3 separate regions of the Homo sapiens genome follow, and all the other regions are linked to region 1. The links come from fine-mapping of genetic effects on gene expression. A gene starts in region 1. Each other region holds a variant in brackets. All regions are shown on one strand. Distances are between the middles of the regions. Region 1 holds the start of HK3 (hexokinase 3). Region 2 holds the start of LOC124901145 (a long non-coding RNA gene). Region 3 overlaps UIMC1 (ubiquitin interaction motif containing 1).

Region 1 (10,252 bases):
CATGCCCACTCTATCTCACCCTGACCAGGCCTATCTGGTGACAAGGGAAAGAGAAGCTGAAGCCAAGCTGCAGACCCTGTTTGCTCACAGGCTGCACATCCAGGAACTCAGGCAGTGGGCAGCAAAGTCAAAGAGCTGCAGGACAGGCGGGGTCTCAGCCTTGCCCCTCTGAGCCCCAGCTGCCCAAGTGTTAGAAATATGGAAACGGAGACTCCGAGAGGGCAAGTCATCTGCAGGGCCAAGCAGCTGTGAAGGGGCAGGGGAGAATTTGAACCCATATCTACCTGAATGCAGAGATGTTTCTATGTCAATGTGAAGCTTTATAAAACCTAGAAAGTTCCCTTGAAAAGAACTCAAGGCTGATGAAAGTTGCTGGAAAGAAACCCCAGATGATCCGGCTTGAGAAAACTTACAGCTGAGTCCTCGCACTCCCTTTTTCTGGCTCTGCAGTCCTGGGAAAGTCACACCTCTCTCTGAGCCTCAGTCACCTCTTCGTGCAAAACTGAGAAAATAATAGTACTTGGAAGTCCCCCAATGCCAGGGACTATGTCTTGCTCAAGGCTACATCTGAGGGCCACGAGGAGCACCAGCTGGAAGCAGGATTTGTTGATTGGATGGTTGTGGTGGCATAAGAATTAAAGGCTGTAATGTATGTGGAAGTGCCAAGTGCCATTGGGATGGGAGGGGCGTTTTAGTATTGCTTCATGAAAACAGTAGAGTCACGGAGAAGTCAATGGCTTGGGCAAATTGTTTTTCTTCCTTTTCCTCTTGGGCATATTGAGATGTTCGGGAGGAGAGACTAGAAGACAGCAGAACTGCAAGAAAGACAGAAGGACTTCCCTGGCAGATCCTGGTGAGGCACACACAAGCCAGGAGAAGCTATCGGAGCCACCCCTGACACCCCAGGAAGAGCAGGGAGAGACCTCAGACAGAAGAGCAAGGAGAAAGGCATTAGAGAGCATGTGAAGTCCAATGTGGTTTCAACACTGGCTCTTGTCACCAACTTGCTGTGTTGCTGGCCTGGGCCCATCACCTCACCTCTCTGAGCAAGCAACCCCTCTATCTAGCAGGAACAATAGTACCTACTTCTCAGAGATGCCATGAGGACTGAGACGACAGCAAACCTGAAGTGGAGGAACAGTGTCACACATAGGAGATGCTCAGTGGAACACGGATTCCCTGTCCTCAGAGCACAAAGCACACCCAGCCTGGAGAGCCTGACTCCATACCCTCTCTGATGACAAAGAGAAGCCTGGTGGAAGGGGTGGGGAAGGGCCTCTGAGATGGTACTGGGAACTGGCCACACGTGGTTAACTAACTTTTTTCAACCTAAGGTCATGGCAAGGGGAGCACAGGGTAAGGCCTGTGGTGCTGAGTTGGGGGTCCAGGACCATGGGAAATTTGGTGTCCCTGTGAAGTCCCCCAAAGCCGAAAGGGATTCTTTCAACCGCAGGTGTATGTGATGGAGCCAGCAGGGCAGATGTGGGCCTGCACAGGAGTGTCATCAGGGAGGGGCAAGAAGCGAGGGAGGAGATGACAGCAGGCCCTAGAGCCAGTCCTGGCTGGGCAGGCACTGTGGCCCAGCCACCGCTGTCACTCCTGAGGCACGGCTGTGGGTCAGGCACAGAAGAACTGTCTGCAGCAGGGTCTGGGGTACAGGTTGGACAAGGGGGAAGTGGGAGCATGAAATGCAGCGAGGGGTAATGCCTCCACAATCTGGGCAACAAGCCTAGTCAAGTGGATGTCAGAATATGCCAGAAAACTAAAGAAACTGCAGAGAATGACTCAAGTACCCTTTAGTGGGCACCTCCTCTATGCAAGTCCTTTTTTTTTTTTTTTTTTTGACAGAGTCTCGCTCTGTCACCCAGGCTGGAGTGCAGTGGTACGATCTTGGCTCACTGCAAGCTCTGCCTCCCGGGTTCACACCATTCTCCTGCCTCGGCCTCCCGAGTGGCTGGGACTACAGGCGCCTGCCACCATGCCCAGCTAATTTTTTGTATTTTTTAGTACAGACAGGGTTTCACCGTGTTAGCCAGGATGGTCTTGATCTCCTGACCTTGTGGTCCGCTCACCTCGGCCTCCCAAAGTGCTGGGATTACAGGCCTGAGCCACTGCGCCCGGACTTTTTTTTTTTTTTTTTTTGAGATGGAGTTTTGCTCTTGTTGCCCAGGCTGGAGTGCACTGCCACAATTTTGGCTCACTGCAACCTCTGCCTCCCGGGTTCGAGCGATTCTCCTGCCTCAGCCTCCCAAGTAGCTGGGATTACAGGCATGTGCCACCATGCCGGCTAATTTTGTATTTTTAGTAGAGACGGGGTTTCACCATGTTGACCAGACTGGTCTTGAACTCTTGACCTCAGGTGATCCACCTGCCTCGGCCTCCCAAAGTGCTGGGATTACAGGCGTGAGCCACCGCGCCCGGCCATAGGCAAGTCCTTTATCTCCATTAGCCTTCAGGGGGTGGGGAGGATTAGACTTTATTTTCCTCCATTTTACTGATGAGGAAACAGAGACTAAGAGATATGAAATGGCTTACACAAGAGTTTCCTGCTCAAGGGTGTGGTATGAGACAGCTTCTAAATCTTGGTCAAGATGACAGAAAAAGAAGAAACTCACTTCTGAGCAAGCCTCAGGCATGAGTTTGGCACTAAAATCGTCTGTGTGCCTGATTGTAGCGGCTACATTGAGGGAGACATGCAGGAGGAACTGGAGAGGCGGGAAAGGAAAGGTCTCAAGAACACAACTTTTGACCAGATAACCCTGAGAAAGTCCACTCTAGACTGTGTCACCCACTTGGGGCGGGAGCGGCACCTGTGTGGCAAGGTGGCAAAAATGACATGTTTGGAGCTGAAACACCTCAGCTCAAGCTCCTGTCATGTCTTAAACTCAAGTCATAACACTTCTCTATATCCCTCTTCATCACCTGTAAGATGATCAGCCCAACCTTGCAGTTGTTTGGAGCATGAAAGGAGATCGTTACCAGCTCAGATATGAAAAGCTCAGTGGAAAGGGGCTGCATGGGTGAGAGCCCAGGGCCCCATGGCAGCTTCAGTCACGCTGCTCTTGAAGGCCTTAGACAAGCATGAAACAGGAACCCAGTGCTGAACTTACCAGCTCTGAGCTGTCTGAGGGCCCGGGCAAGCCCTCCTCAGAGCAACTCAGGGTTTCTTCCCCCTGCCGCAACCCTGAAGACCCAATGGAGTCCATGAGCTTCCACAGTGGAAGGTGGCCACCTATGGGAGAAAAGGGACAACCTGGGTCAACCATTTACTCTATAGGCCCTAGGAGTCTGTAACCCAGACCAACTTCCTTCCTTCTGAAGGGGACCAGGAAGGAAGCTGGGAGCAGAATTCAGAACCTCCAACCATCAAAGATCCTGTAGCAGTCAACCAGAAGGCCCTTGTTTTTCACAAGCATGTCTAATGAGAGAGCACTGGAAAGGCTGATTTCAGTCCAAATGCCATTCGTTAATTCTGTCATTCATTGACATTCACCAGTTCCTGATGCCTGCTATGCTGGACGTTGTGGTACAGATGAAGCAGACCTAGGCCCTGCCCTCAGGGACCTCACAGTCTCATCAACAATCACAGTATGATTAGCACAGGCAGTGAGCAAGATGGCCACATGTAATAGATGGACATGCTGCTGTGGTTGGGAGGTCAGGGACATGCTAGAGGCTTGGAACAAAGAGGGAACCAAAGACCTGCCAGAGAAGCAGGCAGGCTGGAAAAGGGACAGCCATTGTGCCAGGCTAAGGCACATGAATTTCATCCTGAAGGCAACAGGGGTCATGGACAGGGGTGGATCTGTGCTTCAGAAAGGGGTTCCACTAGTGACCTGACCTTGGACGTCATTTATGACTTCTTTGAATTTCAGCTTCCATCCATAAAACAGGAGGAAATAATATCTACCCTCACAAGGTTGTTGTGAGCACTAAATAGAATAACACCTGGGGAAATGCTTTATGAGATGTAGTGTGCAACATAAACATCAGGTGGGTTTTAACAGTGAAGTGATGCAGAGCAGAAAGAGCCCTGTACTCAGAGGTGGGAACCCTGCTCTCCACAAGGCAGCTGCACCCCATCTCAACCTCCAGGCTTTTCATCTGTGAAATGGGACCAACATGTATCAAAGGGTTGTGTGGGGCAAATGAGATCACGAGAGCAAAGGAACTTGCTCAGATGTGCATTCAGATTTATGTAGTTGAATCTGAACTGAAACTCTATGATTCTCCATTTCCTCTATAACATGAAAAGCTCAGTTCTTGTGAGGATTAAAGGAGTTAGTGGTCCTTTGCACACTGTAAGGAACTGTAGAAATGTCAGATACTTCGCTCATCCGAGCTGGAGGTGGTATTGCTGTTTCCATAGTCCCAAGGGAGCCCTCAGTGAGTCAGGTGCTCTTTAGGGGTGGGGGAAAAGGGAAACACAGCAGAGGGCCCAATATGGGAAGAGACATCTGTCCACTGAGTCACTTTACCTCCCTTCCTTGCAACAGCAGAACTTCTGGAAATATAGTACCTTCCCACCCCTACACTCCCCTCCTTGCCTACTCCCACTATGCTCACTAATTTGCCCTCCACGTGGTCACTGGTGACCTCCTAACTGCCCAATCCCAAGCCTTTTCCTCAGTCCCCACCTCTGCTGCCCTCTCTCAGGCATGCAAAGCCAGTAGTCATTCTCTTTGCTACAGAATTCCCCCTGTCCTTGGCTTTCACGGCCAGTCTCTCCTAGGTCTCCTTCCTGAGTCTCTCGTAGTCTTCATCAGTAATTTCTGTTCCTTCAGACAATGGGGTTCCCAAGTTTCGGTCATGCCCTCCCTCTACACTCCCTTTATCTCGCCCATTCCCAAGGTTTCATTAATAGCTGTGTCAGGGCTCCCAAATCTACCTTTGGCCTCAGCCAAATCCTAAATCCCAGTGGTCTGTTAGACATCACTATCTGGATGGTGGAGAAGCTCCTCAAATTCAACAAAGCCATACTCATTTTTCCATCACCTTACCCCCACAAAGCTCTTCTGTTCTCCACCTTGACTGGAGACATCGAAGTGTGCTCACTCACACGGCCGTTCGGGCTGCCTGCGCGCATCCCTCACCCTCACCTCCTCTATGCAATTGGATCTCAGGCTCTCTAAGAGCTCTCCTCTGCATCCCCTCCTCCCCATTCCCACACACTGCACCAGACCATCCTCCGGCCTGATTATTACAACAGCCTCCTAAACTGATAGCTCTGCTTCTAGTTTCTTCACCTCCTTACCCCACCCAACTTGATCACCTCTGCACTCATGGCCGGCACAGGGTCTGGTATAGGTATGTGCTAATGTGCCTTTCCAAAATTGGAAGCAAGGGGAGTGGGTAGTTTTTTATTTAATAAAGCAACAAATCAGCTTCTGATAAATCTCCCCAAACCATACATACCTATGCTGAGTTTCCAAATCTGTCAAATAGGGGTGTGGAATTCTTGTTCTATGCTGCAGGTCTATTTCAAGGATAAAATGAGGTAACTGGGGCAATTACCTTCGAAAAGGACTAAGGGCTACACACGTGTCTTTCTCAAGGCCCAGCTAGTTCATTTATTCATTCACTCACTCATTCATTCCCTCATCCATTCAATATTTATTCAGCATTTTTACATGACAGAATCTGTGAAGCAATCCCCAAGTAGCCCTAATATTTATATGCTAGGTAAATGTATTCAGCTCTGTCTCTTCCCACTGAGATTCCCTGTGGGGAGGGACATGTCTCCTTCACTGCAGTATCCCCAGAGCCCAGGGTCTGTTTGCCTAAGGGCCCCGTGGCTTCCCTTAGCTGAATGGGCTACACGAAGTGAGTTTTCCTCCTGAAAAGTACCCCAGGGACCTCTACTGATGTTGGGAGCTGCCATCGAGAACCAGCTGGCAGGCTGGGTGTGGTGGCTTGCACCTGTAATCCCAGCACTTTGGGAGGCTGAGGCAGACAGACTGCTTGAGCCCAGGAATGTGAGACTAGCCTGGGCAACATGGCAAAACGCCATCGCTAGAAAAAAATAACAAAAATTAGCTGGGTGTGGTGGTGTGCGCCTGTAGTCTCAGCTACTCCGGAGGCTGAGGTGGGAGGATCACTTGAACCCAGGAGGTCAAGGCTGGAGTGAGCCCTGACTGTGCCACTGTACTCCAGTCTGGGTGATAGAGAGAGAGACCCCATCTCAAAAACAAAGAAAGAGAACCAGCTGGCTTAATCTTTCCAGTGTCCACTTCCCCTGGTGTGAGCCAAACAGGAGGGATGAGGACAAGACAGCTGTGGAAGGAGCAGGCAGTAATTAGACCGAAGTGCTTACCTGGGACACAGAGAAGCTAGTCACTCTCCTCAGGTCTGAGCTCTTGTCTGGCAATATGAGGCACCCCAATGACCAAAAGCAACACTCAGGGGTGACCCGAGTTATAATATCCTCAAGCCCCACCCTTTTCCTCCACCACCACTTACCAAACATCAGCTAATTCAGGAAGCTGCACTTCCTTCCAAGCCTGCCCTAAGAGTAGCCCAGGCTAGGCAAGGCTGTGGTGAAAACTTGAGCAAGATGATTACCGCGAAGTGGAGCGTTGAACTGGGTCTAAGATTTTGGGCCATTCCCTCTACAATGCTGAGGGCTGTTTATTTTGCAAATATAGTGAGTTCTGAGGTGGTGGCTCGCCCCTAGAAGGAGCTGGAGGCGCCTAGCCTGGAAAGGTTATGGTAAGTACTTTTGAGCAAGAGGCAATGTGGGAGCACAAGCGGAAGGGACTGACTCTGCCGAGAGTGGGCAGGGCTAGCTGAAGAAGCTGAGTCTTGAAGAAAGAACAGCAGTATGCTGACAAAAGTGGTCCTTGACAAAGTGGAGAGCATGTGCACAACCACAAATCACACACACACAGCAATGAGGTGCAGCTCCAGGCGCCTGAAGAGGGTACACCAAGGTAGGAATATATAGTGGGAGAGGAGGTGACAGGCAGACTGCGGAGTCTAGCCTTTAGTCTGTAGCCTGCGCAGGGAGAGTAGGTTCACATCTTAGGTCTTCTCTACTGGAAGAAGGGGAGTGTTAGGCTGCTGTGGAGCTATTGGCGAACAAGCTGTTTTTCTGTGGGAATTTCTCCTCAAAGGCACAGAACCTTGGGGCACCAATGTAGAATACTAGACAGCCTGCAACAATCTTTGTTGAAGGCATGGATACACTTTAAAGCTTCAGGCTGCCTTGTCAGCAGTAACTCTATCCACAGATAGTAGGCCTCCACATGACATCAGGATGGAGACCAGAGATAGTGGCTCCTCTATCAGTAGTGGCATGAAGAGGCCAGGAAACATGCCAAACATCAGTCCTGCTGTGAAGTTTACTGGGTACCAACCAGGCATATAGGCTGTGAAAGGCAGGGAAGTGGGGGATGGGGTGGCAGAGGGTAGAGTGGCTGTCACAAACAACACAGCATCCTGCCTAGCCTGGGATCCCAGTCCCTTTCAACTTTGTTCAGTTGGGAGAGGAGAATGTGGAACTGACTATGAAAGGCCCAGCTGTGATTCATGCAGATAGCCTGCCATTTCTTGAGCCAGGGTGAGGATATGCCCCTGACAAGCATGGCCAGGGCTCTTCATCTGCGTTTCTGGAAGGTCTGTGTCCAGACCCCAGGAGCAGGGGTCCTGGTTCCCTAGTCAGAATGCCAGGGAAAGTCTGGGTCAAGGCCAGTGGAGGGAGAAGGATGGCTGAGCTTGAGGTCTGTGAGCAGCTGGGACAGCCTGGCTGTAGCAGAGGCACTGCAGCTGCCAGCGGTTCTCTTCAGACACCAGATGGCCACTGACCAACAAAGGGAAGGACAAGTCCTCACGAGGTTCCCTCATAGCCCCTTAGTGCCAATCTCCAACTGTAGAGATGGAGCTAAGGAATGAGGAAAGGCAGTTTGCTGGGGGAGAGGTGGGCACAACCAGAGCACTGCCGATGGGCTGGGAGGTCAGGCCTTCCCTCTGCGCTTGCTCACAGGCTTCTCACCACTCACAGTGCCCATGCCAGGCACAGAGATCCTCAATAAGCTCCCCCAATTTGTTCCACACCCTTTATACCGTGAATGTGCCTTGCAGCTCTCCTACACACATCGAGCTACTTCTGTTGTGTCTTTGTTTGCACTGACTTGTCTGGAATGACCCTCCCTTTGGCCTCTCCCACCTTTTCACCTCATTTTTCCTCATCCCTTAAATTATAATCATCAACGACAATGAGGAGCCCTTCTCTGAAAAGCTCCTCCTGGCCGACCCCAGCTGAGTGTGGTCTGCTTATTGGTTCCGTATTATGATGCATGTTCTTGTATCACTGCATTTATATCTGTTTATTAAAGGCATCTGTTTATGTGTTCTTCTTCCCCATTGTACTATGGGCTCCCAGAGAATGTTTCTTATTCACCCGTGCAGCCTCAGACCTCAGTTCTTTATCTGGCAAGGAACAAGTATCAATTAATTTTTGTTAAATTGAAGAGCCCTCCCACAATCTCAATAGTCCACGGCTGGCCAAGCATGATGGCTCACGCCTGTAATCCCAACACTTTGGGAAGCCGAGGTGGACGGATCACTTGAGGTCAGGAATTCATGATCAGCCTGGCCAATACAGTGAAACCCCGTCTCTACTAAAAATTAAAAAAATTAGCCGGGCGTGGTGGTGTGCACCTGTAATCCCAGCTACTCGGGAGGCTGAGGCAAGAGAATTGCTCGAACCTGGGAGGCAGGGTAAGTTGCAGTGAGCCGAGATCACGCCACTGTACTCCAGCCTGGGTGACAGAGCAAGACTGTCTCAAAAAAAAAAAAAAAAAAAAAAAAAGTCCAGGGCTTTTGAAACTGAGAGGAAGCAAGCAAGCTCTTACTGTCTTCCTGGTGCATATGGTTTCAGCAGTCTTTCCACTAGTCCATCTTTCCACTGACAACTACAACCCTCTCATCCACTTACTACCTGCCTTCCCCTCCCCAAATTCCCATCTGCTAACAACCTAAGGCCAAAGCTACCCTGATTCACAGGCAAAAATGAGCTCATCCAAACCTGAAATTTCCCTTGAGTCATTAGTTTTGTGACTGAAATGAGAAGTAGGAAGTAGTGTGCTATAGTACAGAAAGCTTCAGCTCTGGGGTCAGGCAGACCTGGTTTCAAAATCCCATCTCATTACCAACTGAAAGACCTTAGACAAATTTCTTATTCCTCTGAGCCTCGGTTTTCCTTGTATAAAACTTGGAGACTGATGTCTTCATAGGATTTGCTTTAGGTTAGGTAAACCCAGAGGCAGACCTAATTTGAATGCAAATAACTTTATTTGGGAAGTGATCCAGGACAGGGCCAGAATCAGGGCAATGCAAATGATATGCCTAGGGTACAGAATGTAAAGAGACCCTCTCAGGTTCATACGGGTGCCAACCTTGCACTTAGATGAACCCAAGAATAAAGGCTCATCACCCTAGTCCCAGTCCTGATCAGGAAAATACAGAAGAGGAGCTGGAAGCCAGGTAGGAAGAGAAAGAAGCCAAGGAAGTGTACGTTAATTGTTACTGGGAGCTTAGAGAGGTTCACTCCCACAGGGAACCCTGAGAAATAGGTAGAATGTGCCTTAGAGTTGTCCCTCACTGAGTGAGGAAGCTGGGGTATCTATCCTCCCACTTCCACTGGCTGAGAGCTGTCCCAGGGGCACTAACTCCCTGGTACTCTCAGCTTGTGCCAACACAAACCAAGAGAAGTCCTCAGGCAGAGTCTCAGGTACTTGCAACAGGACTCTGTGGGTATACAGCAGAATGGCGAATGCCTGGGGGAAATGGGCGAGGCACAACCTCTGCTGGGGCTGCTGTAAGGACTAAATGAAAAAGCACAACTACAGCGCCTAACAAAGAGAAGTCCCCCTCTATCTCTTCCAATTTACGGCAATAGCTTGTGAAGTTTATGGAGCTTCCCAGCTCTCCGTGAGTTGGCAGCATCAGCAGAACAGCTATTTCTCATCTTTCAGAAGTAAAAGAAATCCAGGGGCCCTAGGAGAACTCTAGATGCCTGGGACCCAAGTTTCCTGTGGAAGCCTGATGGTTGATGGAGCCCGAGTAGTCCCTCCTGAGTACACATTCCTCTGAAAACTATCTCCTCTTGCATCTGCACCCGTCCCCCATCCCTCCACCCCTCAGTGCAACATCATTTGTGACACATAGACTAGCATCACATTAATAACTGCTGCCACTAACTCATTCTTCTATGTGATGACATTGTGCTGGATCAAAGCTTTATCCACATTAT
Region 2 (10,260 bases), 88 kb after region 1:
GCTAGGATTACAGGTGTGAGCTGCCGTGCCCGGCCAAGAAACGTTTCTGAAAAATCAATAAAGATGTAAAGAAATGCTCAATCTTGCTAACCAAAAATATGTCATTTTTTGGCCAGATGCAGTGGTTCACATCTGTAACCCCAGCACCTCAGGAGGCCTAGGCAGGATTGCTTGAGGATGGGAGTTTGATACCATCCTGGGCAACATGGCGAAACCCCATCTCTACAAAAAAAAATACAAAAATTAGCCAGGCATAATGGCTTGAGCCTGTAGTCCCAACTACATGGGAGGCTGAGGTGGGACCAGGAGAAGGAAGGTGGAGTGAGCTGAGCTAACACCACTGCACTCCAGCCTAGGTGACAGAGGGAGACCCTGGCTCTAGAAAAAAAAAATATATAGGAGAAAGAGAAGAAAATCTGAAGGAAAAAACAATGACTTAATTCACTGCCTTTGAGATGAGACCTGCAGGCAGGCAGAAAACTCCAATAAACAAATAGAAATACAGGATAAAGGAAAAAGGTTACAATCTTTATTCCGGAGAATAAAGCTTTCTAAAATGATAAAAATGTTGTATAGCTCTGCTGTCTAATACAACTGACACTAGCCTTATGTGTCTTTAATCACTTGAAATGTGACTAGTGCAACAGAGAAGCTGATTTTTAATTTTAGTTATTTTTAAACAGCTACAGATGGCTAGGTGCTATTATATGTAGAACATATCAAGAGACTTAAGAACATTCACGTGTTTTTCCTCTCACTTTCTAGACACATGAAAACTAAGATTTACAATTGATTTAGATGATTCAAATAGTTCCAAAATGCCACTTTGGATTACTATATTATAAAACTGAAGAACTATGATCCATCCTCAACCAAGCAACAGGATTACTACCTTAAGTAATTCTTCATTCCATTTACAAATTAAAACAAAGCTGAGTAAAAATTTCATGGTTTTGGTGAGCTGGCATTAAGGTGAAGTCAGTCACGAAACAAACTCCCCATGGGTAAAGAAGCATAGTTTGAGAGCTACAGCTCTACTTTTCAGCTCTACTTCACTAACCTCTCCATCACTATCGGATATCACAATGAATGCATCCTCAAGTCTACGCTTCCTCTTCACACTGACAGAACTGGTAGTTTCCACATCCTTCTTCTCCAGGTTCCGAGATTCGGAGACTTCTTTAACTTTTTTCTTTCTCCGTGGCATCCTTTTGTCTAGAATAAAAGGACAATAATTTTGTCTAGAATAAAAAGATCATAATTTACTTAAAGTATAAGTTTTCTAGAAGCTATTCAACTTAGTCTTTTTTTGAGATGGTCTCGCTTTGTTGCCCAGGCTGGAGTGCAATGGCACGATCTTGGCTCACTGCAACCGCTGCCTCCCAGGTTCAAGCAATCCTCCTGCCTCAGCCTCCCGAGTAGCTGGGACCACAGGCACACGCCACCACACTGGCTAATTTTTGCATTTTTAGTACAGACAGAGTTTCACCATGTTGGCCAGGCTGGTCTCAAACTCCTCACTTCAGGTGATCCACCCGTGTCAGCCTCCCATAGTGCTGAGATTACAGACATGAGCCACCACATCCAGCCTAATTTTTGTATTTTTGTAGAGACTGGGTTTCACCATGTTGGCCAGGCTGGTATTGAACTCCTGACCTCAGGTCATCTGCCCGCCTTGGCCTCCCAAAGTGTTGGGGTTACAGGAGTGAGCCACCATGCCCAGCCTCAATTTAATCTTGTAAAAGAAAAAGATAACCCTATCTAACAGAAGCAAAACTGCATTTCTTAACTTGTCTACTACTCATTAAAAATATAGCCCTCTCCCTCTCCCCCTCCCCCTCCTCCTCTCCCTCCTTTCTTCAGTCTCCCTCTGTTGCTGATACTGCCACGATCTTGGCTCGCTGCAACCTCCCTGCCTCAGGCTCCCGTGATTCTCCTGCCTCGGCCTGCCAAGTGCCTGGGATTCCAGGCACGCACCGCCACTCCTGACTGGTTTTTGTATTTTTGGTGGAGACCGGGTTTCGCCATGTTGACCGGGCTGGTCTCCAGCTCCTGGCCTCGGGTGATCTGCCCGCCTCGGCCTCCCGAGGTGCTGGGATTGCAGACGGAGTCTCGCTCACTCAATGCTCAATGTTGCCCAGGCTGGAGTGCAGTGGCATGATCTCGGCTCGCTACAACCTCCACCTCCCAGCCGCCTGCCTTGGCCTCCCAAAGTGCTAAGATTACAGCCTCTGCCCGCCCGCCACCCCATCTAAGAAGTGAGCAGTGTCTCTGCCTGGCTGCCCATCGTCTAGGATGTGAGGAGCCCCTCTGCCCGGCCACCCCGTCTGGGAAGTCAGGAGCGCCTCTACCCGGCCGCCACCCCGTCTAGGAAGTGAGGAGCCCCTGCCTGGCCGCCCATCGTCTTGGATGTGAGGAGCGCCTCTGCCCGGCTGCCCCGTCTGGGAGGAAGTGAGGAGTGCCTCTGCCCGGCCGCCACCCCATCTGGGATGTGAGGAGCACCTCTGCCCGGCCACCCCATCTGGGAAGTGAGGAGTGCCTCTGCCCAGCCGCCCCGTCTGGGAGGAAGTGAGGAGCGCCTCTGCCCGGCCGCCCCGTCTGGGAAGTGAGGAGCGCCTCTGCCCGGCCGCCCCGTCTGGGAAGTGAGGAGTGCCTCTGCCCGGCCGCCCCGTCTGGGAAGTGAGGAGTGCCTCTGCCCGGCCGCCCTGTCTGGAAAGTGAGGAGTGCCTCTGCCCGGCCGCCCTGTCTGGGAAGTGAGGAGCGCCTCTGCCCGGCCGCCCCGAATGGGAAGTGAGGAGCGCCTCTGCCCGGCCGCCCCATCTGGAAAGTGAGGAGTGCCTCTGCCCGGCCGGCCCATCTGGGATGTGAGGAGCGCCTCTGCCGGCCGCCACCCCGTCTGGGAAATGGGGAGTGCCTCTGCCCGGCCGCCCCGTCTGGGAAGTGAGGAGTGCCTCTGCCCGGCCTCCCCGTCTGGGAAGTGAGGAGTGCCTCTGCCCGGCCGCCACCCCGTCTGGGAAGTGGGGAGCGCCTCTGCCCGGCTGCCTATCGTCTGGGATGTGAGGAGCGCCTCTGCCTGGCCGCCCCATCTAGGAGTGAGGAGTGCCTCTGCCTGGCCGCCCCATCTAGGAGTGAGGAGTGCCTCTGCCCGGCCGCCCCATCTGGGAGGTGTACCCAACAGCTCCGAAGAGACAGCGACCAACGAGAACAGGCCATGATGACGATGGCGGTTTTGTCAAAAAGAAAAGGGGGAAATGTGGGGAAAAGAAAGAGAGATCAGGTTGTTACTGTGCCTGTGTAGAAAGAAGTAGACATAGGAGACTCCATTTTGTTCTGTACTAAGAAAAATTCTTCTGCCTTGGGATGCTGTTAATCTATAACCTTACCCCCAACCCCGTGCTCTCTGAAACATGTGCTGTGTCAACTCAGGGTTAAATGGATTAAGGGCAGTGCAAGATGTGCTTTGTTAAAAAGATGCTTGAAGGCAGCATGCTTGTTAAGAGTCATCACCACTCCCTAATCTCAAGTACCCAGGGACACAAACACTGCGGAAGGCCACAGGGACCTCTGCCTAGGAAAACCAGAGACCTTTGTTCATGTGTTTATCTGCTGACCTTCTCTCCACTATTATCCTATGACCCTGCCACATCCCCCTCTCCAAGAAACACCCAAGAATGATCAATAAATACAAAAAATAAAAATATAGAGGAATTTTTTTTAGAAAAATATAGGGAAAAAATG[GT/G]TTTTTTTTCTATAGAGAGAAACATAGACTGGGCACAGTGGCTCATGCCTGTAATCCCAGCACTTTGGGAAGCTGAGGCAGGTGGATCATTTGACGTGAGGAGTTGGAGACTATCCTGGCCAACATGGTGAAACCCTGTCTCTACTAAAAATACAAACATTAGCCGGGCGTGGTAGCGCATGCCTGTAATCCCTGCTACTCAGGAGACTGAGGCAGGACAATCACTTGAACCCGGGAGGCGGAGGTTGCAGTGAGCTGAGATCGCACCACTGCATTCCAGCCTGGGCAACAAGAGGGGAATTCTGTCTCAAAAAAAAAAAAAAAACAACTATATAAATATACAAATCTCATTCTCCATGGTGAAATTTCAGTATCAATAATATAGTCATGTATCCTAGTTCTTTAAACATCAATTTAGATAATTGCTTTTCTTGACTACATATTATAATTTACCTACAAGTTTTTTTTCTTTTTTGAGACAAGGTCTCGCTCTGTCACCCAGGCTAGGGTGCAGTGGCATGATCGTAGCTCACCACAGCCTCATCCTCCTTGGCTCAAACAACCCTCCCACCTCAGCTTCCTGTGCAGCTGGGACCACAGGGGTGTGCCAGCACACCTGGCTAATTTAATTTACTTTTTATTCCTTATAAGATAGGATCTCACTATGTTAACTAGGTTAAGATTTTTTAAATACCAAATGCCTCAACCTGATAAAGGACTTCTACAAAAATCCCATAACTAATAAGCTAACATCATGTTTAAAGGTACAAGACTGAATGCTTTCTCCTTTCGACAAGGAGCAAGACAAGAATGTTTCCTTTCAGCTGGGCGCAGTGGCTCACCCCTGTAATCCCAACACTTTGGGAGGCCAAGGCAGGAGGATCACTTGAGGTCAGGAATTTGAGACCATCCTATGCAACGTATTTTTTTTTTTGTAGAGACAAGACATGGCATCCTGTGTCTACAGGATAGAAGGCCGTCGTGGGCTGATCACCTGAGGTCAGGAGTTCGAGACCAGCCTGGCCAACATGGTAAAACCCCATCTCCACTAAAAACACAAAAATTAGCTCGGCGTGGTGGCGTGTGACTATAATCCCACCTAATCCAGAAGCTGAGGCAGGAGAATCACTTGAACTCAGGAGGTGGAGATTGCAGTGAGCTGAGATTGTGCCACTGCACTCCGGCCTGGGTGCCAGAGTAAGACTTCATCTCAAAAAAAAAAAAAAAAAAAAAAAAAAAAGTAAGGCACACTGGTGAGCACCTACAGTCCCAGCTACTCAAGAGGCTGAGGCAGGAGGATAGCTTGAGTGTGTTTGAGACTGCCATGAGCTATGATCATGCCGATGAACTTCAGCCTAGGCAACTGGGCAACAGAGCAAGACCCTGTCTCCAAAAAAAAAAAAAAAAAAAGGCTGGGCACACTGGCTCACACCTATAATCCCAGTATTTTGGGAGACCAAAGCAGGAGGATGGCTTGAGCCCACAAGTTAAGAGACCAGCCTCATCAACATAGCAAGACCCTGTCTCTACAAAAAATTAAAAAATTAGCTCAGCATGGTGGCATGCCTGTGGTCCCAGCTACTGCAGCCTGGGCAACAGGGCATGGTTCTATCTCAAAAAAAACAATGTCTGCTTTAATCATTGAACATTATACTTAGGGTTCTAGGCAGAACAATTAAGCAAAGAGAAATAAAAGATACTCAACTTAGAAGTAAAACTATCACGATTTGCAGATGACATGACCTGTGTTTAAAAAAAAACACTAAGAAACACATTAAAAAACTATTATAGGCCAGGTACAGTGACTCACACTTGTAATCCCAGCACTTCAGGAGGCTGAGGCGGGCAGATTACTTGAGGTCAGGAGTTTGAGACTAGCCTGGCCAATATGGTGAAACCCTGTCTCCACTAAAAATACAAAAATTAGCCAGGCGTGGTGGCGGGCGCCTGTAATCCCAGCTACTTGGGAGGCTGAGGCAGGAGAATCACTTGAACCCGGGAGGCAGAGGTTGCAGTGACCCAAGATCGTGCCATTGGCACTCCAGCCTGGGCGACAAGAGCGAAACTCCATCTCAAAACAACAACAAAATCAACAGTTCATCAAGGTTATCTTGCCTTGTATCAATGCAGGAAACAAGTCAACATACAAAAACCAATTGCATTCCTATATGCTAGACATAAACAATCAAAACTGAAATTTTAAAAATTATATTTCTGGCTGGGCACAGTGGCTCATGTTTATAATCCCAGCACTTTAGGAGGCTGAGGCTGGTGTATCACTCGAGGTGAGGAGTTTGAGACCAGCCTGGCCAACATGGTGAAACCCCATCTCTACCAAAAAATAAAAATAAAAAAACTAGCCAGGCATGGTGGTGCACACAGGTAGTCCCAGCTACTCAGGAGGCTGAGGTAAAAGGACTGCTTGAACCCAGGGCAGAGGTTGCAGTGAGCCAAGACCACACCACTGCCCTCCAGCCTGGGTGACAGAGTGGGACCCTGTCTCAAAAAAATAAAATAAAAATAAACATTAGCCAGGCATGGCAGCTAATGCCTGTAGTCCCAGCTACTTGGCAGGCTAAGGAGGAGGGATCACCTAAGCCCAGGAGGTTGAGGCTGCAGTAAACTGTGATCACACCACTGCACTCCAGCCTGGGCAACAGAGCAAGACCCTGTCTCACAAAAAAAAAAGACATCAAACGTAAAAGTAGCCCAGCAGAGTGGGCTGTAATCCCAAAACTCTGAGAGGCCAAGACTGGTGGATCACTTAAGCCCAGGAGTTTGAGACCAGCCCAGGAAACACGGCAAAACCCTATACAAAAAATACGAAATGTAGCCAGATGTGGTGGCGCACTTGTAGTCCCAGTTAGTTGGGAGGCTCAAGTGGGAGGATGGAGGATCAATTGAGCCCAGGAGGTCAAGGCTGCAGTGAACCAATATCCGTGCCACAGCACTCCAGCCTGGGTGACAGACTACGCCCCTGTCCAAAAAAAAAAAAAAAAAAAAACTCAAATCATTAATCATGAGGGAAACGCAAATCAAAACCACAATGAAATATCACTTTATACCCACTCTGATGGCTGGCTATTTTTTAAATAATGGAAAATAACTAGTGTTGGTAAGGATGCTGGAGAAACTGGAACTCTAGTACACTGTATTATTGATAGGATGTAAAATGGTGTAGCCACTATGGGGAAACAAAAGGAATGAAGTATTAATACATGCTACAACATGGATGAACCTTGAAAACATGCCAAGCGAAAGAAGCCAGACATAAAAGGCACATATTGTATGATTCTATTTATAAGAAACATCCAGAATAGGCAAATCCATAGGCAGAAAGCAGATTAGTGATTACCAGAAGATGAGATAGGGGAAAATGTACAATGACTGCTTAATGGATATAAGGTTTATTTTGGGGATGATAGAAATGTTCTGGAATTAGAAAGTGGTAATTGCACAACACTGTGAATTTATTAAAAGCCACCAAATTGTACACTTAAAATGACTGAAATGGTAGATTTTGTTAGGTGAATTTTTTTTTTTTTTTTTTTTTTGGAGACAGAGTCTTACTCTGTTGCCAGGCTGGAGTGCAGTGGTGCGATCTCTGCTCACTGCAGCCTCCACCTCCCGGGTTCAAGCAATTCTCCTGCCTCAGCCTCCCAAGCAGCTGGGGCTACAGGCATGTGCCACCACGCCAGGCTAATTTTTGTATTTTTAGTAGAGATGGGGTTTCACCATGTTGGCCAAGATGGTCTCGATCTCTCGACCTCATGATCCACCCACCTTGGCCTCCCAAAGTGCTGGGATTACAGGGTAAGCCACCGTGCCCAGCCTGTTAGGTGAATTTTACCTCAATTTTTTAAAAAGGGGAGCCCCGGATGATTTTATTTTACAGCCAGAGCAGAGAATCACTGACTCAATCACAGATTTAAATAAAGCCACCTTAACTTTGTAACAAACTTCTCAAACCATTCAATTACTCCTAAGGGGGTTGTTACATCTTATTATCAGAAGTAGTCTGTACAATACTAGCATTAAAGTTTTTCTAAAAAAAACACTTAAAGGATTAAAAAATTCTAAATTAAGGGATAGTAACAACATACACACACAGATGCTTACAATTTACAAAATCATTCCCCATGATAAAACTCGACACACAAACGTCCTTTTCTGCATTTAATGCATATTTTTAATGACTAAAGAACAAGAAATTACAAAGATGAAAAAATTAGCCAGGCGCAGTGGCTCAAGTCTGTAATCCCAGCACTTTGGGAGACCAAGGTGAGAGGATCATCTGAGGACAAGAGTTTGAGACCAGCCTGGACAACATGGTGAAACCCCATCTCTATTAAAAATACAAAAATTAGCTGGGTGTGGTGGCACATGCCTGCAGACCCAGCTACTGGAGAGGCTGGGGCAGGATTGCTTGAACCCAGGAGATGGAGGTTGCAGTGAACCAAGATCACACCACTGCACTCCAGCCTAGTCAACCGACCAAGACCCTGCCTCAAAAAAAAAAAGAAATATACTTTTAACTTCTGTATTTAAATACAGTTAACAGAATATTTATTGCATATGCAATGCAGAGGTAGCTAGTTATTATTTAAGTATACATAAATTCATACTAAAGCAGTAACATCTCACTAGATAACTAGATATGACCTATCCACTATGGTCTAAATGTTTGTGTCCCTCCAAAATTCATATGCTGACATCTAATCCCCAATGTGTTGGTAAGAAATGGGGCCTGGGGCCAGGCGCAGTGGCTCACGTCTGTAATCCCAGCACTTTGGGAGGCCGAGGCAGGCAGATCATGAGGTCAGGAGATCGAGACCATCCTGGCTAACATGGTGAAACCCCGTCTCTACTAAAAATACAAAAAAATTAGCCAGGCGTGGTGGCGGGAGCCTGTAGCCCCAGCTACTCGGGAGGCTGAGGCAGGAGAATGGCGTGAACCCGGGAGGTGGAGCTTGCAGTGAGCCGAGATCGAGCCACTGCACTCCAGCCTGGGCAACAGAGCGAGACTCTGTTACAAAAAAAAAAAACAAAAACAAAGAAAGAAATGGGGACTTAGGGAAGTCATGAAGACACAGCACTCATGAATGGGACTAGTGCCCTTATAAGAGAGGCCTAAGAGAACCTGTTTGCCCCTTTTACCCTTCTGCCATGTGAAGACACAGCAAGAAGGTCCCATCTTTTAAGCACAGTGCAAGCCCTCATCAGGCACCTTGATCTTACATTTACCAGACTTCAGAACTGTGAACAAAAAAAATTGTATTGTTTATAAATTACCCAGTCTAAGATATTCTGTTATAGCAGCAGGAAAAGGTTAAAAACCTATCAAGTTACCATTACACAAATTAAAACACAAATAAGATGACATATTTGTACTTCCTAAAATAAATTAATTTTATATTAATTCGCAAGAAGTGAATTTTCTAAACCCCAAACTGTAACAGAAATGGAAAAAACACATGCAACTTTGTACAAATGTTGCCATATTTCTAATATAAATAGATTTTATATTTATGTTTTTGTTTCTTGAGATAGGGGCTTGTTCTGTTGCCTTGGCTTGAATGCAATGTGTATGATCATAGCTCACTGCAACCTGTAACTCTTAGGTTCAAAGAATCCTCCTGCCCCAGCTTCCCAGGTAGGTAGGACTACAAGAGTACACCACAACACTCAGCTAATTTTTTTTTTTAAAGAGATGGGGGTCTTGCTGTGTTGCCCAGGCTGGTCTTGAACTCCTGGCCTCAAACGATCCTCCTGCCTTGGCCTCCTAAAATGCTAGGATTAGAAGCACAAGCCATCATGACTAATCAAGTCCTCAGTTTTATTTTTTATTTTATTTTTTATTTTTATTTTTATTTTTTTTGAGACAGAGTCTCGCTCTTTCGCCCAGGCCAGACTGCAGTGGCACTATCTCGGCTCACTGCAAGCTCTGCCTCCCAGGTTCACACCATTCTCCTGCTTCAGCCTCCTGAGTAGCTGGGATTACAGGCGCCCGCCACCACGCCCGGCTAATTTTTTTTGCATTTTTAGTAGAGATGGGGTTTCATCGTGTTAGCCAAGATGGTCTCGATCTCCTGACCTCGTGATCCACCTGCCTCAGCCTCCCAAAGTGCTGGGATTACAGACATGAGCCACCAAGCCCGGCCTCAGTTTTAATTCACCTTACTCTACCTTTTTAGATTCAGGTCTGCTACTACCATAATGAAGACTACCCAAAGAGCAAATCTCTTTGGGGAGAAACAGCAAAGACAACTGAGGGGAAAGAATATGAAATCTGGCAAATTGAGAAGACAGATCTGACCAGCCTGGGCAACACAGAAAGACTGCCTCTCGATCACCTGAGGTCGGGAGCTCAAGACCAGCCTGACCAACATGGAGAAATCCCATCTCTACTAAAAATACAAAATTAGCCAGGCATGGTGGCACTATTGCATTCAAGCCTGGGCAACAAGAGTGAAACTCCGTCTCAAAAAAAAAAAAAAAAAAAAGGCCAGGCGCGGTGGCTC
Region 3 (8,000 bases), 57 kb after region 1:
AAAATATAAAAATTAGCTGAGCATGGTGTCGTGCACCTGTAATCCCAGCTACTCGGGTGGCTGAGGCAGGAGAAACACTTGGACCAGGAAGGCAGAGGTTGCAGTGAGCCGAGATCGTGCCACTGCCACTGCAGCCTGGGCAACAGAGTGAAACTCCATCCCAAAAAAAAGAAAAGAAAAGGAAAAATATACACACCGAGAATCTTAATCAGAAGTATGAACCTGTATCAATCAGCTTTATGGTTACTGCCAGATATGTAAAGTGAGGAAAGGTAATGATGCAAATAGATTTATTTTATCAGACAGCTATCTTGACTTTGCATTTCTGATCAAATTAGGGCTGGAAGTTATGTATACATCATAATATAAATATAGTAATTTTTTCCAAGACTGTTTGTCTCTGTTACTTATTGGTACATAATAAAAAATGCCCTGTAACTTTGGATTCAAACCCGTGTTCAAATTATATTTCTACCATTATTAGTAGTATGATTTAGAGCAAATTAAACATCCTAAGCCTCTGTTTCCCCATCTCTAATAGAAATAATAATGCATACAAAAGTACTCAAGAAATGGTAACTACTGTTATTTTTAGAAACAATGCTGAACTAATCTTAACTATAAAAATCTCTCCCTAACATAAGGGCCCCCAAAACTAAAACCCCCTGCCACCTAAATCTTTTCAGCCAATGTCAACGTTGCATCAGAGAGAGGACTGCCAACGGAAAGAAACCACTGAGAAAAAATATAGAGGAAAATATTCACCTCCTTATCTGCCATTATTATTCTGACTCCATCCAAGATATCTCTGCTACCTGGAGAGACTTCTCTTTCAAGGTCAAAAGTTTCAGAGGAACTTAGCTGGGTCTCTGTAATTTAAAAAAGTTAAAATCCCATTAATTTTCATTTTGTGTTTTCATAATTAAAAAAACAAACATGCCTATTTTCACCTAAAGTTTAGGATATGACAATACTGTGGTGGCAATATATTAATAGATCTAGTTTGTTTCTTCTTAAAGCTTTACTGAGGCATAATTTACAAATAACAGAATTCATAAATTTTCAGTATACAGTTTAATGTGTTTTGACAAATGTATACCATTTATATACTACCATTTATACCATGTAACCTCTACGATAATCAAGATATAAAACATTTCCAACACCCCAAAAAGTTCTCTGTACCCCTCTGCAGTCAATCTCCTACCTCTTTGGTCACTGCAATGAACTCTTTATAATGACCAGTTTACTTTATGTTCCTATAATTTTGTCTCTCATATAAATAGAATCACATGTCTTTTGTGTCCAGCTTCTTTTACTTAGTATAATGTGTCTGAGATGGACCCATGTCGTCACATAATATCAATAGTTCATACTTTTTGCTGCTGAGTAGCATTCCATTGTATAGATATATCACAATTTGTTTATTCATTGACCAACTGATCAACTGGCTTATTTCCACTGTAATTCTAGTTTTAAAGTATACTGATTTGACAGAAAACAAGAACCTGCCAATGTTAGTGCTGAGGTTAAAGAGATGATTAGCAAAAACAGAAATTGGGACCAGAAATAGAATATACATTCTAGACAAAGATATGCCTTTCTTTAATATATTCTTTAAGCAGCATCTATTAATTCAACAAATAATTGAACATCAAGTCCCAGGCATTATACTCGCTATCAGTAATATGAAAATCTAAGATGGGGTCCCTTGTAGTCTAGTTCAGGGGCCAGAAAACTAGATACAGCTCATGGGCCAAATCCTGTCAGCTGCCTATTTTTCTAAGTAAGGTTTTATTGGAACACAGCCATGCTCATTCATCTATGTACTGTCTATGGCTGTTTTTGCACTAAAATGGCCGAACCAAATAGTCTCAACAGACTATACGGCCCACAGGGCCTAAAATATTTCCTATCTAGTCTTTTATTTTTAAAAAGTTTGGCTGGGCACAGTCACTCATGCCTGCAATCCCAATGCTTTGGGAAGACGAGGCGGGAGGATCACTTGAGGTCAGGAGTTCAAGGTTGTAATGAGCTATGATCACACCACTGCACTCCAGCCTGAGTTACAGAGTGAGACACTGTCTCACACACACAAAAAAAAGTTTGCCAACTTCTGCTGTAGACACATATCACTTAATATAACAACAATAAAAAAAATAGTAATTATCTTTCAAAACCACCAATGTATCTGGAAAAGAAACATTACAGACTGAATGTTTGTGTACCCCCCGAACTTCGTATGTTGAAATCCCAACCCCTAATGTGATAATATTAGGAAATGTGACCTTTGGAAGGTAATTAGGTCATGAGCATAGGGCCTTCCCTCAAAAGAATGGGATTAGTGCCCTTTTATAAGGGACCCCAGAGAGCTCTCTCACCCTCTTTCCACCATGTGAGGACACAGCGGGAAGTTGTCTGGCTCTCACCAGACACTGAATCTGCCAACTCCTTGATCTTGGACTCTCCAGCCCCCAAAACTGTGAGAAATAAATTTATGTTGCTTATAACCCACTCAGTCTAGAGCATTTTGTTACAGGAACCCAAACTAAAACCAGACATTTATTTCAGAATGCAAATCCAGTAAGTTCTCTGTTATCTGACACTATACCTGCTGTACCTCTAATTAGCACTTTGCTTCACAAAACAATAAATGGCCAATGTCAGGCAAATAGGGCATCTGCAAGTTTCTAATGTATCTTCTGAATCATTAAGAAAGGATTAAATACATTTCTAGAATTAATTATATTTTAATACATCACAAATTTTTTTGAAAACTGGACACATACACACACACACACACACACACACACACACACACACCTTATTGGAAAAAGGCTTACAGGACATAAACTTCAAAATCCTGTCAACTTTCCCTAAAGGTATTTTCAAAAAGATATTCAGCATATTTAAAAGTAAGAACCATTCACTGCTTAGATTACTGCAATAATAAAAAGTCTTCAATTATGCTTTCTGTGAATGGCTGAAATGTCCAACTAAGAGGGCATTAGCTTCTCAGAAAAAAGCAATGCTAGAAGCATGCAAAATGTAGGCATAAGGCTATAATCCTGCTTCTTCAACTAAGTAACACTAAAAAGATATTGTAATCTTAAATATTAGACTCCTGAACTGTCAGAAATATGAAACAAAAGTAAACAGGTAACAGTCTACTACACTAAATATGTGTTTCACCCATTTGGAACAAATTTTTTCAGATAATTTATATATATAACTTCTAAATTATATATTTAAAAAGAAACCCAGGAGTTTGGCTTCATGGTGAAGCAGTTATACTTTCTTAGCAAAAGGAACATTAATGTAATGAATACCTTTTGCAATCTCATTTAGAAGTGGTTTATGTCAGCAAACAGTTGGACTTAATTAGCAGGCTAATGACAGCAAGTCATGATCATAAAAGCTATCTAACCTCAGTATGAAGGGCCTGCTTTTCCCTCTCATTAACTAGGCCTTTCAAGATCAATATATTTGCAGGTTCCTCCTGCAAGATCCCATGGTGATGTCACACGCCATCATCCTAAACAGACTGAGTGATTTCCTTCTAGGAAGTCAGTAGTCCCAGACAGAGGGGGAAAGCTTTCTTTTCACAAAGGTAGCACAGTATTCTTGAGTGCTCCTGCCAAAATCTGAGCACTCGGTAGTGTAGTCTCTTAGTGGGTATTGTTAGGCAGTAATCCAAACACATTTCAAATGAATTAAGGAGCCACTTTCAATAAAAACCAACATAGGCTGAGCACGATGGTTCATGCCTAATCCCCAGCACTTTAGGAAGCCAAAGCGGGAGGATTACTTGAGCTCAGGAGTTTAAGGTCAGCCTGGGAAACACACCAAGACCTCGTCTCTACTAAAAAAAAATAATAATAATAATTTTTAAAATTAGTTAGGTGTGGTGGCACATGCCTGTAGTCCTAGCTACTCGGGAGGCTGAGGAGTGAGGATCATTTGAGCCAAGGAGTTCAAGGTTACAGTCAGCGAGCCATGACTGCGCCACTGCACTCCAGCCTGGGCAAAACTCTGTCTCAAAAAAAAAAAAAAAAGAAAAAAGCCAACATAGTCCGATTTTTAAAATAAATAAAGACCTTTATGATAGACTGCCAGATGTTTAAAAATATTTATAGGTCTTTCCTAGATTACATGCAAACTAAGTTTGAGTCTCTGTGGAAAAACATTGAAGGAAACCAAAATAAGAAAACTATGATTATCTCTAATCCTTATAGGCTA[T/G]ACGAGACCTGAGGGAAAACCAGATGTGACTTAGGGCAACATCTGTATACTTGCTGTTCAAAGTTAAACATCAGTAGGAAGTCCCTCAATCTCACAGGAATGAGGCTAATGATCTTTTCAGAAAAGCCAGAAAGGAAAATATAGTCTAAAACAAATTCCTTAGAAAGTAGTGGTTCATATCACAAAATAATGCTTCATATTATACAATGATTCAGGAGTTTCTTAGATGGTAAGTATCTTAGTTCATTTTACATTATTTTGTATATCTAAATCTATCCATGTGCAACTTTGAATGAGCATCTCTTCTACCTAAAACAAAGTACCTATCTTTTAATTTTTACAATTAACAAAAAGCAAACTAAAGCACTTAACGAGGTTAAGCATCTTAGGTCTAAGATTAAAAATAATGACAGAACATGCACAAAACTCAATTTCTGAACCTCCTATGCAGTAAGACCCCAACAAATGGCAATATAAAAACTAACTACTAAAAGGCTGTGAAGTCCAGGCACAGTGGCTCACATCTGTAATCCTAGCACTTTGGGAGGCCAAGGAGGGAGAACTTAAGCCCCGAAGTTCAAGGCTGCAGTGAGCTATGATTGCACCACCGCACTCCAGGCTGGCTGACAAAATAATTTAAAACAATTTAATTTAAAATAATTTAAACAAATTAAATAACAAAAGGCTCTGAATGTACAGTTAAGCAAATGCTATTCCTGATGCTTTGCTGCCATCTCTGATGAGGCCTGTAAACAATCAAGAAGACAAAAAAAGTCATGTTAATTTCAAAACTAAATTACCCCTAAGGAGAGAAAAGATTGAGAATAAAAGCCAATGGCCATTAAAAACACCTATATGTGTATACGCATACGAGTGTTGAGACATGTACATACACGTATCAATTACATACAAACCTCCAGAGAGTAGGTTTGAAGAGTCAGAGGAAAATTAATAGGCATGAAAAGGTAAATAGGTATCAGAAATTCAGTAAAATCACAGTGGGGTACTTACCAGGACAAACAGTGATTTCTTCTGCAGAACTCTCTGGCATAAGGACTAAGCTTCTCTTACTGGTCAAAGCAGCAACACTGAAAGAGAACCAAATCCCAAATGAATTCCCAGTAAAATAAATCAGAACATAGAGCCAAAAGCAATGGTGAGTCACTCACAAAGCCACAGGTAATCACAGATACTTGCTGCCTAATACCACAAAAGCACAATAGGAAAGCAAGGAATCAGTACTGAAAACTCCAGACCAGAAATATGGAAAATAAATATGCTTACAACTTCAGTTCCAGTGAAATCACTGAATGAAAACAAATTCCCTTTTGGAGTTTTCACAAAGGAAGGTTGAAGGGTGAGAACTGTCTGTGAATATCAGAGAAGGCAAAAACTCCACTCCAATATAAGGATGTCAAAGGTGTTTTATAGCCTCCATCTCAGCCTTCTGAAGGCTAGAGATTTGTAAACTGACAAGAGAAGACACAGAGATTCTTCTGACAACACACTTTCTCCTCCTTTTGCAGTTAAATCTCCTCTTTATCTCAAGATGTTGCTTTCCATGCAACAAAAATAAAAAACAATTCCAAACTGCCCTACAGCAAAAATCTGCCCACATAAATTGAATCTCTTTTCTAACAAAAACTTAATTATGAATGGCTTCCTTCATCCAACCTTCTGGTTTTCCCTGACTGCTCATGGAGTGCAATCTCTTCCTGACATAGGAATACATGGCTGATCTGAGCATCTGAGCTAGCCCCCTCATGCTTCACAGGGCTTTACGATTAGTTTGATCAAGTATGCAAGAGGATGCTTGAAAACAAAAATCCTCACATCAACCAAGAACCACAGAGAAGACAGAATAGCTACAACTGAACTCATGATAAATAACTAAATCCTGATAGAAAACCACAAGTGATTTATCTCTAAATAAAACATCTCATAGCATTTGTTATAAACCCCAGCCAGACAGTTTACTCTGCATGTAACATTAGTGCTCTATTCAAAGGGTCCATCACAAAACAATTTTCTGACATTTATAAAATGGGCTAATCAATTTGAAGTCAAACCACATTGCCTGCGATTCCAACTCTCTCCTGGTGACAAAGTGTATAATCATTTATTAAAACCTACATCTGCTCTGCACAAGGCTCACCACAATAAAGCAGAGAGGCCTATAGGGAGTAAAGGCATACTCTGTTAAAACCACTTCCAAAACTGTCTTAACAGCAGGAAAATCAAACCAAAGCCATATTCTTTAGCCCAGGAAGGAATACCAAGTACTATCAACCAGAAGCCTAAGAAAGACCACCACCTTGACTACAGCAAATGGCAAGTGGGCTTCAACTCTCATATGGGAGAACAGTCATGCAGTTCAAAACTAAGCTCTTGAGAAAGTCTCAAAACTCAACTACTAGATAAAAAGGGCAAGTGGAAAGTAACTGGAAGCATGATCCAGTTAATAGTGCAGTTTATAATTAATCAACTGCTATCTATTATTAAAGTAAGAAGACTTAGAAGGTAAGCCCATCAATCAATCAGCAAGAACAATGGAGGAGGTAATGCAAATACCATCCTTTACAGGAGATAGGAGGCACAAACGGATTAAAAGTGGCACAGGACAGACAGTGAGAGTGACACAGGTCCTGTGTGGCCTGAATAATATGAAGACTTTGAAGAGGATGTTAAGTCTCAAGAGTAAATTTAAAAGATGTATAAGGTTTAGATATACAGATAAAATAAGCATAAGCAGAGTTGGGGAAAAGAGAGAAAGGGGCTAAGAATAGAAGGACTATAAAGAAATCAGTCTAGAGCCTTCAAATTGGCATAGAAAACTAGTGTAATTAGTTAAGAGAATTGCAGGATGTGACCGCTTTTCAGAAATAATGTAAATGAGATTTATGCCAAGATAGCTGGCCTGGACAAGATGACCTCTAGGATCTCTTCCAGCTCTTAATATTCTGGGCTTCTATGAGATGCACATCTGAGAACTTAGAGATACTAATAAAATTTCTCCTAGTCTTCACTTATAAAAGAGCTAAAAGTTCTCTGGCAAGCTGTCCACGTACAGTCTCACTCATGTGGTTCATCTCCCTTATGCTGGCAACCATCAGAGGAGAATGCATAGCAACATATAATCTCTCACCTTTGTGAAGCAGGTACAGAGTTTCCCTCTTCAGAAGTTTCTTCAACAATCCCTTGGGAAGACTGCAAAGAAATACGTAGTATCTTAAATATACAGGCACAGGTGAACTGGCTTCTCTTCCTTTTTTAAAAAAATTTAATTGTTCAATGTTCTCCCTCAACAATTAACAATAAGAAGAAAATATTTTCCATAAGCCAGTAAGTGTCAATAAAACAAGCACATCCTGTAAAGTCAGAAGACTGGTATTTAAATCAGAACTAAATCACTTACTAAATTTGTGATTGGGTAAATGACATCTGAATCTCTTTCCTCATCTTAAAATGGGTATTAACAATTGCCTCACAGAGTGTTGTGAAAATTAAACAAGATAATGTACACAATGCACTTCATAACATGCAAGACCTGTATCAATATTAACTGGTAAGTCAAATGAATTATGATTTCAGAAAAACAATCAAAAAGTTTGCATGGGGGAAAGGAAAATATAGAGAAAAGTTCAATTTTCAAAGGAAATACTGAGTTGAGATAAACACTGCAATCTATGATCTTTGAGAAAAACCAAGCCATAACACAGGACATCTAAAGGGAAGGTTACAAAGATTCTTTTTGCTACAAA

What was found. PIP is the estimated chance that this variant, and not a neighbour inherited with it, causes the effect.
Region 2: its variant is fine-mapped to the expression of HK3 in whole blood (TOPMed, PIP 0.91).
Region 3: its variant is fine-mapped to the expression of HK3 in whole blood (TOPMed, PIP above 0.99).

The regions. Positions count from the first base shown.
Region 1 is chr5:176,892,954-176,903,205 of GRCh38, forward strand. HK3 (hexokinase 3) reads right to left here and starts at 6,393. Exons shown (of 19, transcript NM_002115.3): 1 at 6,314-6,393; 2 at 3,111-3,232. The coding sequence starts at 3,206. RefSeq lists an enhancer at 7,213-7,714.
Region 2 is chr5:176,981,409-176,991,668 of GRCh38, forward strand. UIMC1 (ubiquitin interaction motif containing 1) reads right to left here. Exons shown (of 15, transcript NM_001199298.2): 2 at 1,061-1,215. The coding sequence starts at 1,207. It overlaps LOC124901145 (a long non-coding RNA gene), which reads right to left and starts at 1,054. Exons shown (of 2, transcript XR_007059073.1): 1 at 1-1,054. RefSeq lists a silencer at 3,347-3,547. The variant GT/G (reference allele first, on the strand shown) is at 3,739.
Region 3 is chr5:176,950,709-176,958,708 of GRCh38, forward strand. UIMC1 (ubiquitin interaction motif containing 1) reads right to left here. Exons shown (of 15, transcript NM_001199298.2): 7 at 7,385-7,446; 8 at 5,251-5,327; 9 at 766-869. Among named protein-coding and RNA genes, the nearest start is that of UIMC1, 52 kb to the right of the region's middle. The variant T/G (reference allele first, on the strand shown) is at 4,240.